2 separate regions of the Homo sapiens genome follow, and region 1 is linked to region 2. The links come from fine-mapping of genetic effects on gene expression. A gene starts in region 2. The other region holds a variant in brackets. All regions are shown on one strand. Distances are between the middles of the regions. Region 1 has its middle 31 kb from the start of C11orf58. Region 2 holds the start of C11orf58 (chromosome 11 open reading frame 58).

Region 1 (5,379 bases), 31 kb before region 2:
ACCTGGGAGAGGCCCCAAGATCCACACCTAACTTTGCATGGGTGAGAAATAAATTTTGATATATTCATCCCCTGGGACTTTAGGGTTTATTTTCTACCATAGTATAGTCTAGACTTCCCATACTCTAGATATTATGATTCCTGTATTATAGATGAGAAAACTGAGGCACAGTGGTCCCATGACTAGGAATTAACTGAGTTGAAACTTGAGCTTGTATCCCTCTGACTCCAGGGAGCTTTTAACCACTACAATGGCTGCTGTTACTTTGGAGGAAAAAAAGAGAGAGAGAAGAGCTTCCTGGGGACTTATGGGAAGATTTTGGTGGAGAAAGGGATGATGGTCCTATAGAGTTGGATTCTGGGTCCTTTGAAAAAGAATAATCTCTGGTGAAATCGATGATGTCACAGACAGCCCGAAGAGAAACTTAGGTTTGGGAAAGTGCCTGTGTCAGTGCCTACTGTGTGATGAATGGAAACCCCCTCTGTGGCTGCGATCTGACAGTGAGCATGGCCTGGGGCACGTTGGAGAGGTGTTACTTAGGCACACTTGACCTAGCCACAGGTCTTTCGGCTTTAGGACTCAGAAACCAGATTTGTCAGCATTAAGAGTGGGGCTGTCTCTCAGGGCTACAGTCACACTGACCAGACTTGGGAGACAGATGGAGAAAATTGGATGGGAACCGAACTGCCAGGCAGATTGGCTACTGGTATTCACTGATACTACTACTACCACCCCCAGCCCCACCTGGGGTTGGGATGCGTGTCTTCTTTAGACACGGAAGTCTCAGGACCAGGGCAGTCTTGGAGAGTCCTGGTGTTACTGAGCTATACCAACCTGAGGTACTATCTCCACGACAGGAGACTATGTCCTGCAGACCTGATGCTCATGTTCCTGGACCGGGGCTTCCTCTTTGGAACAAAGGAAGATGGCACTGCCCTTCAGGTGGCTCTTTTCTATGTGGCTATGACTGGCCAGCCCCTCATCCACAGGTTGACACCATGGGAGGGAGACAGCCTAGTGCAGAAGTGACACGCACTGAGCCAGGCTGTCTGGAATCAAATCCGGGTTGCCAGCCCTGTGACTTGGGCAAGTTACTTCCCCTCTCCATGCCTCCATGTCCTTACCTGGAAAATAAGGATATTTTTACCTACCTCAGTAGAACTGTTGTGAGAATTAAATGAGTTAGTCCATAGAAAATGCTAAGATCAGTTCTTGCCCCTATGGGAAGCATCAGAAAAAATATACATATTAGTTATTTACCAGCATTTAAGTTACAGTCATTTAATATGCATCACACTCTTGTTCTTTAATTATTTGTTTGCTAGTTTACTGACTGCTTCCCTCACAAGAACACAAGCTTCATGAAAGCAAGGACACTGTCTTGTTCACTGTATTATCCCTTCTGCCCAGAACAATGTCGGCCACAAAGAGAGCGCTAAGAAATAATTTGTTCAATGAATGGATAAATGAATGAAGTTGAGGCCTGTTGGCCAGGGAGCCCTCTCTCTTTTTGGGATGACTTTGCCTATCTCTGCTCAGCTCTGTTACATGTTTTATACTGTAGCCCCCAGAGAGCATCTCTCACTCTCTTAAGTCCCTTGAGTAGTAGATAAGAGCAGGTACTGTGGAATTCCAATCTACCCTTATTAATTCTGTGACTAATTTAAATGCAGGTAAATGATAACCAATATGTATATTTTTTCTGATCCTTCCCATGGTGCTGAGAACTGTTCTTAGCATTTTCTGTGGACTAACTCATTTAATTTTCACAACAGCTCTACTGAGGTATGCAAACCACTGGACTTCGTAAGCTTCAGTTTCCTCTTCTGAAAAATGAACATAATAGGACCTACCTTCCAGGGTTCATTGTGAGGACTAAAGGAGGTAGTCCTCACACAGTCCCTGGCTTGGGAGCACTCAAGAAGCATTCACTGGGCTGGTTTTGCCCTTCGGGACAGCAGGGCTCCACATGGTTCTTCCACATTTAAAGCCTGTCTCCTTTCCTGACTGGGCAGCATAAACAGGTTTGGGGGCATCTACTATCCCCTGACCCCTGTCTTCTGCCCTCCACCCTCTGCCTTCCATTTCAGACAGTCACCTGCCGTAGGTAGAGTGATGGTCTGGGGCTTTTGAAGTTGGAGTTTGCAAGGCTGGGCCATGCCAGGCTACCCCCCGCGAGCTCTCTAGGAGCAGAGGACAGCCAAGTCCTCGGAGGCCGCCCCTGCAGCCCTGCGGCTGTCCACCCGACAGCAGATCAACCTATGTGCCTCCCTTTGATGTGAGTCCTCAAACTGGAGCCTCGTGCCCTGCTCTGAGAACCCGAGCTTTGAAGTTGGCCTATAAACTGAGCTTTCAGGAAAAAAGTTGTCTGTTGTGCCTCAGAGCACGGCCAGGCCCTGTAAAAGCACACGGAGTGCCATGAACACCTGATGAATAATTCTTTTTGGGCCCAAGAAAGATTCATTCCATTTAAAGGAGAGGAAAATTCCCTTGACCTTTTCATTGAAGTTCTAGGGGTGGGGGTTGGGGGGCACTTAGAGAGGGTTTTTTTGTCTTCTCACTAAAGCCACATGGAGCAGGCAGTTTGTCTCCAAGAGCTGAGCTCCAGTGACTGCTCCAAAGGGCTTCCTATCCCTGACTCCCGACCCCAGGTCTGCTCAGCCAACACCCCCTTCACACTCCCTGCCTCCCACCATGACTGAGGGAGAAGACTGGGTCCTCTCCCAGAAGGAGAGGCCTCTCTCCAGACCAAACCATGTTGGAAATGGCAAGGCTTATGGACTCTACTGCTTTCTTTTCCTTCCAGGGCCTGGCATGGCGAAGGGGTGAGGCAGACATGAATGTGCCTGGATTTCTCACCTGAAGGAGCCCTGAAAACAGGCTGACAGTTGCCAAGTGCTTATTCTGCCAGGCCCTCGGCCTTCTTTTGTGCGTGACTAGATAATAGGATGTAAGTTTGTGTGTAGTTTTCTGAGATCATTCTTTTTTTTTTTTTTTTTT[G/TTG]GAGACGGAGTCTCCCTCTGTCACCCAGGCTGGAGTGGGCAGTGGCATGATCTCAGCTCACTGCAACCTCTGCCTCCCAGGTTCAAGCGATTTTCCTGCTTCAGCCTCCTGAGTAGCTGGGATTACAGGTGCACACCACCATGCCCGGCTAATTTTTGTATTTTTAGTAGAGATGGGGTTTCACCATGTTGGCCAGCGTGGTCTTAAACTCCTGACCCCAGGTGATCTGCCCGCCTTGGCCTCCCAAAGTGCTGGCATTACAGACATGAGCCACTGTGCCCGGCCAAGACCTTTCTTTATGGCAAATGTAACGTACCTATAGAAGGTACACACAAAAGAATATTCAGCTCAGTGAGTGATCAGAAGGCAAACACCTGCGTAACCACTCTTCAGTCGAGAAATAGAAGTGTGCCAGGGTGCTGGCAGCCCTGGTCCTGCCCGTGCCTGCTCAGGAGGCCCTCCCACTCCTGCAACGGATAAGCACTCCACCGACTTTTGTGGTAACTACTTACTTGCTATTCTTTACAGTGTTACCGTCTAAGCAGACATCACAAAATACAGTAGCTTAGTTTGATTTGTTTTCTGAAATTTCTACGAATAGAATAATTTTCTCAGATAGAAATTCCTTTATGTCCAACTTGTTTTCATTAAACATCTTTTATATTTATTTGTGTCGCATATAACTGTTTCACTCATTTTTGCTGCTGTACGTGACAGTATTCCACTGCATGAATATCCAACAATTATTGATCTGTTTTACCTAACAATTATTGATCTGTTTTACTGTTGAAGGACATTTGGGCTTTTACCAATAATGTTATTGCTATTACAATAGCATTACTGTAATATTGCTATTACAAATAATGCTGCTATTAATATTTCTATGCATGTCTGTTGGTGTGCATGCTAAGTGTAGAGGTGCTATGTCAGAGGATAAGCATATCTTCACATGAGGTAGAAAATGCCAAATTGTTTTCCAACATAGTGGTACTAATTTATGCTCCCACCATCACTATATGAGTTGTTGTCCCTCCTCACTGTGGCAGCCAGCTTCTGAAATGGCCCCAAAGATCCTCACCTCTTGGTGTTCACACCCTGTGTAATCTCCTCTTCTTAGGTGTGGGCTGGAGATAGTAACTCACTTCTACTGCATAGGATGTGCCAGAAGGTAATGGATGTCACTTTCAAGATGAGGTTACAAAAAGGCCTCTATCTTGGGCACTCTCCCTTGCATCCTCACCTGCTTACTGCGAGGGAAGCCCTGTAGTGAGCTAGTGGAAGGAGGTCTACCCAGCAAGGAACGGACACCTGACCACAACCAGTGAGGACCTGAGACCTGCCACAATCACCTGAGCGAACTTGCAAGTGAGTTATCCCCCCAGTCAAGTCTTGGGTGACTGCAGTCCTAGCTCACACCTCCATTACAGCTTTTTGGGAGACCCTGAGCCAGAGACACTCAGCTAAGCCCCGATTCCTGACATGTGGAAATGGTGAGATAATAAATGTTTGTTGTTTTAGGCCATCAAGTTTTGAGGTAATTTGTCACACAGTGGTAGACAATATACCCACCAAAACTTTTCATTATTTTAAAATTTTAGCCATTTTGATGAGTATGAAGTAAGCTTAACTAGCATCTTCCTGACCATTAACAGAGTCAAGCAGCTTTTTAAATGTTCCTTGACCACTTGGGTTTCCTTTTTTGTAAAGCCTGTCATGTCTTGACATTTTTCTATTGAGTTGCATATCTTTTTCTTAGTGATTTGTAGGGATTCTAGATTTCTAGGGTAACCGGGGTTACCACCAGAAAACAGAGCCTGAGGCCAGGGCTTGCAGGCAGAACATTTATTTGGGAATGTCCTAGGGAATCACAGTGGAAAGGAAATGAGAGGAAACCAACCGAAGAGGGGCTTCTCCAGAGCTGGTCACTGTTGTGGGAAACTTGGACTCAGTCTCACTGAGACCTTCCTTCTAAGGGGCCATGTAAAATGCACCTCAAAATTATCCACTTGAGAATGAAAGAAGGGAGCACTTATCCTCTAGCTCAGGGCCCCTTTTGACCAAGGGGTCCCCGTGGGGTGTTAAGCCCCTCACTTTTCCAGATCATACACGTGTGAGTGATTCCCACATGAACCCCACACTGGGGCCACTGAGAAGCCCTGGGGCACAGGGTGAAGATGCCATCTTGCAGGAGCGATAGCCATAGCAGAGGAAAAAGTGGCCGAGAGGATGTGAGGTGGAGCATGGGAAGTATCTGCCCCACAGTCTCTTAGGGATTGTATGTAAATATCTTCTCCCCTCTGTGGCTTGCTTTTCCACTCTCTTCATGGTGTCTTGATGAATAGACATTACTAATTTTAAGGTAGTAGAGTTGATAATTTT
Region 2 (5,379 bases):
TTACCTCAATTAGATGTGAGGTCAATGGGCATAAGAAAACTTCAATGATCTCTCACATACCGTGGATGCTCATTAGAAACTGTTTCCCAACTATATATTATAACTAGATTTTTTTTTTTTTTTTTTTAAACAGAGTCTCGCTCTGTCGCCCAGGCTGGAGTGCAGTGGCGCCATCTTGGCTCACTGCAAGCTCCGCCTCCCGGGTTCACGCCATTCTCCTGCCTCAGCCTCCCTAGTAGCTGGGACTACAGGCGCCCGCTACCACGCCCGGTTAATTTTTTTGTATTTTTTTAGTAGAGGCGGGGTTTCACTGTGTTAGCCAGGATGGTTTGGATCTCCTGACCTCGTGATCCGCCTGCCTTGGCCTCCCAAAGTGTTGGGATTACAGGAGTGAGCCACCGCGCCCGGCCTGCTAGTTTTTTTTTTTTTTTCTGCAACAGCTTGGAGGTATTTTAATGAATGCATTACTTATGGTTAAAAAAATTTTTTTTTTAAGTACTGGCTGGGCGAGGTGGCTCACACCTGTAATTCCAGCACTTTGGGAGGCCGAGGTGGGCAGATCGCTTGGGTCTAGTAGTTGGAGACCAGCCTGGGCAATGTGGCAAAATCTGGTCTCTACTAAAAATACAAAAAATTAGTCGGGTGTAATGGTGCACACCTGTAGTCCGAGCTACTGTAGTGGTGGTGGGGGAAGAGGGGGTTGAAGCAGGAGGATCACCTGAGCCAGGGAGGTGGAGGCTGCAGGGAGCACTGATCGATCGTGCCACTGCACTCCAGCCTGGGCGACAGAGACCCTGTCTCACCTGTCTCAAAACAAAAACAAAACCCAGGTACTTAAAGATACGCTTATATGATTGGGAAAGGTCTTCAAGGTCGTCTAGTTTAAACCGACCTCTTCCGAAGCTGTAAACTTAATGACTTAATCCCTTTAACTTTGTTAAATTTCATATCACCTGGAGTTTTCTGTCACGCTAAAAGATATTTCCAAACAGGTGTCTGATATCCTAGCAATCAAGTCACATTTAAAGATCAGGAGGAAAACAATGTAACAGCTTTTTAAGTGGCAGCCAGGTTACTCAAAAGTGTGGATCAATTCCTGACAAAACCTGAATTACCATATTAACAAGATCTAAAATCCAGTAGCAGAAATAACAGAGAGCAAGAATAAACTTCTCTAGGTGCCCATTCATCCCCAAATCTTTACTGATTGCTAATCTTTCTGCAGAGCTGAAGTCGATTCCTTTAAAGATCCTTAATATTCCGGTCCTCGCCCCACCTCCCATCAGAGGGGTAGGTCTTAACATTATCTCATTTGCTACAAAGTAGTATTCAGTGGGCTTTTAAAATTTTATGAAGAGCGTTGAAATGCACTATCGAAAAATTTAAAGCTCTATGTATTCAGAAATTGACAGTACTTTAAACAAAACCGAAAAAAAACCTAGATATCCCTTCATCTTCCTTAAAGATGACCTCTCCGCGCTCTCTCCAACAATTTTCCCCATCAACGTTGCCAAGACACTTATCCATTGTATGAAGGACCTAGTTTTACGTTTACTGGTTACCTACCGTTTCCATGACACTGGGCTAGGAGCTAGGACAAATATACAAAAAGGCCTAAAATAAGCATCATATTTCTCTCCGAATTCCCAACACCCGGCAGTGCAGTAAATATTTAACGGGTTACTTTAAGGGATAAACCGTTTGCTATTAAAACCTATGAGGTGAGGGCTGAGGAAGGGAACGGCATTTGATGGGGAGACGAGGTAAGAAGAACGAGGTATTAATATCCGACATCAAAATGGGCTTCTAGGTCTCAACGTCTTAGACCTCACCACCAGAGCCAGTACCAAATTACACCCGTGGCACAATTTTCGGCTCAATACTGTTCTCGGTTTACCCTTACTAGTGCAGCTAAAGTTAACTCTCAACAGCACATTGTAAAAATCATCCAGGCAGGAAAAATCTGTACAAACGTGCACGAACATTTCGACATTGTCACGGGAACATTTAGAACCCAAAACAGGGAGAGTCTTGCCGTCTCTATACTGAGTACAAAGGCCCGAGAAAGCACTCTCATCGGCCCCCCAAAACGCACGTACGAAATCCCTTGACTAAGCTCTTTCACTCCTCGACCCTCTCAGAATTTCCTTCCTCAATCCCCCTTCCTACGCAGGTCTCCGGCTCTCAGCGTGTGGGCCTCTTCAAACCTTCTGACCCTCATAAAGATTAAGGGAGGCATTTCCCACTCATTCTTCTGGTTTCTTCCCTGGGCTCTCCCGCTGCAGGCCACCTCAGGCGCGTCCTCCTCCAACCACCCTTCCCGGCCTACTCCAGGCTTTAGTAGGCCTCAACCCTCAGCCACTCCGCCATTATTATTTACATCGTCGTCTGGGGAGGCTGAACGCTTCACCCCATGCGGGTGAGACTCTCTGGCAGCACTCATCCTTGCGGGGATCCCGACGAAAAATGCCGAACCCTCTCGCCGCTCTTCCCAGCCGCAAAACCAGCAGCTTACAATCCGCCAAGGGCCCAAGCAGCGCCACTACAGAACGCAGAGCCCCTCCGGGCCTTCTCTGCCACAGTCGTCACCGTTGCGGCCCCTCGCCGCCCCGGGGCACTTTGGGAGTTGTAGTTTTCTGATTCATTGCATACTGGCCCGAATAAAAAAGATGTGTCCGTGACTAAAACTACAATTCCCAGGAAGCCCCGAGGCTCAATTCGCGCTGTGTGGCGGGAGTGCCCTCAGAGGCCCCGCCTTCGGCTGGTGGAGGAAGCGTTCCCGCGGATGTGTATGGCGGTGAGCGTTGGCCGAGAGCTTTGTCGCCACAGGAGGAGGCTTAGAGGGGTTTTTGCCTTTCACCGTGCAACGCTGCCCTACTGGCAAATGTATCATCGTAGCTAGGCACCTATGTTTAAATGTAATGTTTGAGGCTGACTGAATCCTCACGAATACCCTCCACCCAGGACAAAAACCTTAACCAAAAATGGCTTCTACCATTTCCACCCTGGTGTTCTCTATTGCGCGCAGGGGATTTCTAGGTGGTCGGTGATGCTGCTTTCTAAATGTTTTCATGAATATTTCGCTGTTTTCCCATACAGAAATGAGTTCAGTATGTTGTTAAATGTTGGCTAATTGGCGGTTGTTGAAAACGGGGATTTAGCTGAGGGAAATCTGTTAAGTTTTCATATGGCTTTGTGTGAGGTGGGAGTGCTCCTCACTGACCTCGCTGTGGATGTCTGGGCACCGTTACAGTAGGGGCCTTCACCAAGCAAAGTCCATCCCTGCCACAAAAGCCTCTATTTTTTTTCTTTTTTAAAAAAAGTAATTATTGAGGTTAAATTCACATATAAAATTAACCATTTTTTAAAAAGTGTACAATCCACTGTCACTTAGTACATTCACAATCGTGTGCAGCTGTCACCTCTGATTCCAAGAAGTTTCACCACTCCAAAAGGAACCCCAATGCCCGTTAGCAATCCCTCCCCATTTCTCGCCCTCTCTCCAGATTCAAGTGATCACTCCTCTACTCAAAAAGCCCTGCATTTAAAGCTATTTATTGTTCAGATACTGAAGACTATCTCCTACTTTATTAAGGTGTCTGAATTTGTAACCAGGTCTGAACTTAACTTTCTGTCAGAATCCTTGTCCTTAATAATTCTGAAGCTTTCTCACCTTGAATACAAATGTGATTTTTTTTTTTTTTAAGCAAAAATTAGGCCTGGCGCCATGGCTCAGGCCTGTAATCCCCAGCATTTTGGGAGGCTGAGGCGGGTGGATCACGAGGTCAGGAGTTCGAGACCAGCCTGATCAACATGGTGAAACCACGTCTCTACTAAAAATACAAAAATTAGCCTGGCATGATGGCACATGCCTCTAATCCCAGCTACTCGGGAGGCTGAGGCAGGAGAATCGCTTGAACCCGGGAGGCGGAGGTTTCAGCGACCCAAGATGGCGCCACTGCACTCCAGCCTGGGTGACAGAACGAGACTCGGTCTCTAAATAAATAAATAAATAAATAATAAGTGGTATGGATAATACATATCTGCTGTTTCAGAACTGAGAGCAGTCTGTGAAACAATGCTTAGCTATTAGCTTTTGAACTCAGCAATTGCTCTAGTTTCACTGCCTGTGTACAAATATTACTTACCTAGATTTCAGATCCTCACTGAACTGTGACCAGTGGAAGGTAGTTTTTAAATTTATGCAGTCATAGATTCAAATTCTCCCTTATTTTGGAAGCAGAAAAATAGCATAATAGTAAGTACTATAATAGAAAAAGAGATGTCAGGGTTACATTTTATAAGTATAACCAAACAAAGAACATCTTAATGGTTCTGTGGTAAGAATAAATCATAAAGGAGGAGGAGAGTAAACCCAAGAGAAAAAAAAGAAACATTGTTTTAGGAAGTGGTTGATTGCTTTTTGCTAGAATTAAAATATTTTCACTACTACATAATTCTACTTAGGTTCTATTAGTTACAATGAAATTACATTTAAGTTACAGAGTTTTGCAGTTTCGACTACAGTTCACCTCTAATGGGTTTGACAAATGGTGATTTAGAACTATTAGCTATATTACCAAAACAAATAAGATGGCTGAATAGGTACTTTAGACTGCTAAAAGATTTCTGAAATAAGAAAGGATTGTCAATAAGAATAGTAGTTACTATATAATTTTAATTTTACTAGTTGGTGAAAGTCCAGAAAACTTTAATGAGCTAGCAACATGTCTTTTATTTCTTCACCAGAATTGTTGGCACCTGGATGGTAAATCTTCAAGTTACTGTGAAACAAGATCACAAACGAAAAAGTAACATAGGAAATACTAAAGACTGGGACATTTTATCAGATTTTACTCAGTTTCATATACAGAAGGCTATAGGTAAGGATGAAATTATACAGTGTAATAGAATGCATATATGCCACAGAAACTCAGTAATGCTCCTCTTTCTTGTATTGTAAAAACAAAGATACACTATCATGAGTGAAACAATGAAATACCTCCTTCAGAATTGGGACTGTTGCATCTGCATTTTTGTTTCTGGCGCAATGCCTGCCACACGGTAGTTAATAAATGTTTCTGAATTAATATAGGAAGGATGAAATTATATAGTACCAGAGTGGTATCTTATATGAGGCCTAGAAACTCAGCAATGTTCTTCTTTCTTGGGTAGTAAAGACAAGGAGAGGAGGCCCTGTCACTGAGAACTTTACATTTTTTTAAATTTTCCCAACATTTAGCATGTAGTGGGCAGTCACAGATGTTTGTCGAGTACGTGCTCTCAACCAGGGATAGTCATGATTGACCATAGTTAAAACTGAAGAGGAAATAAAGGCTTTGAAGATTATGCTGTGTACAAAAAATCTGCTGTTTCACT

What was found. PIP is the estimated chance that this variant, and not a neighbour inherited with it, causes the effect.
Region 1: its variant is the best candidate, but not a certain one, in a credible set for the expression of C11orf58 in whole blood (INTERVAL, PIP 0.68).

Annotation. Positions count from the first base shown.
Region 1 is chr11:16,767,070-16,772,448 of GRCh38, reverse strand. No RefSeq gene overlaps it. Among named protein-coding and RNA genes, the nearest start is that of C11orf58, 31 kb to the right of the region's middle. The variant G/TTG (reference allele first, on the strand shown) is at 3,001.
Region 2 is chr11:16,735,843-16,741,221 of GRCh38, reverse strand. C11orf58 (chromosome 11 open reading frame 58) reads right to left here and starts at 2,575. Exons shown (of 5, transcript NM_014267.6): 1 at 2,381-2,575. The coding sequence starts at 2,443. It also overlaps a transcript of SOX6 not described here. RefSeq lists an enhancer at 2,072-2,701.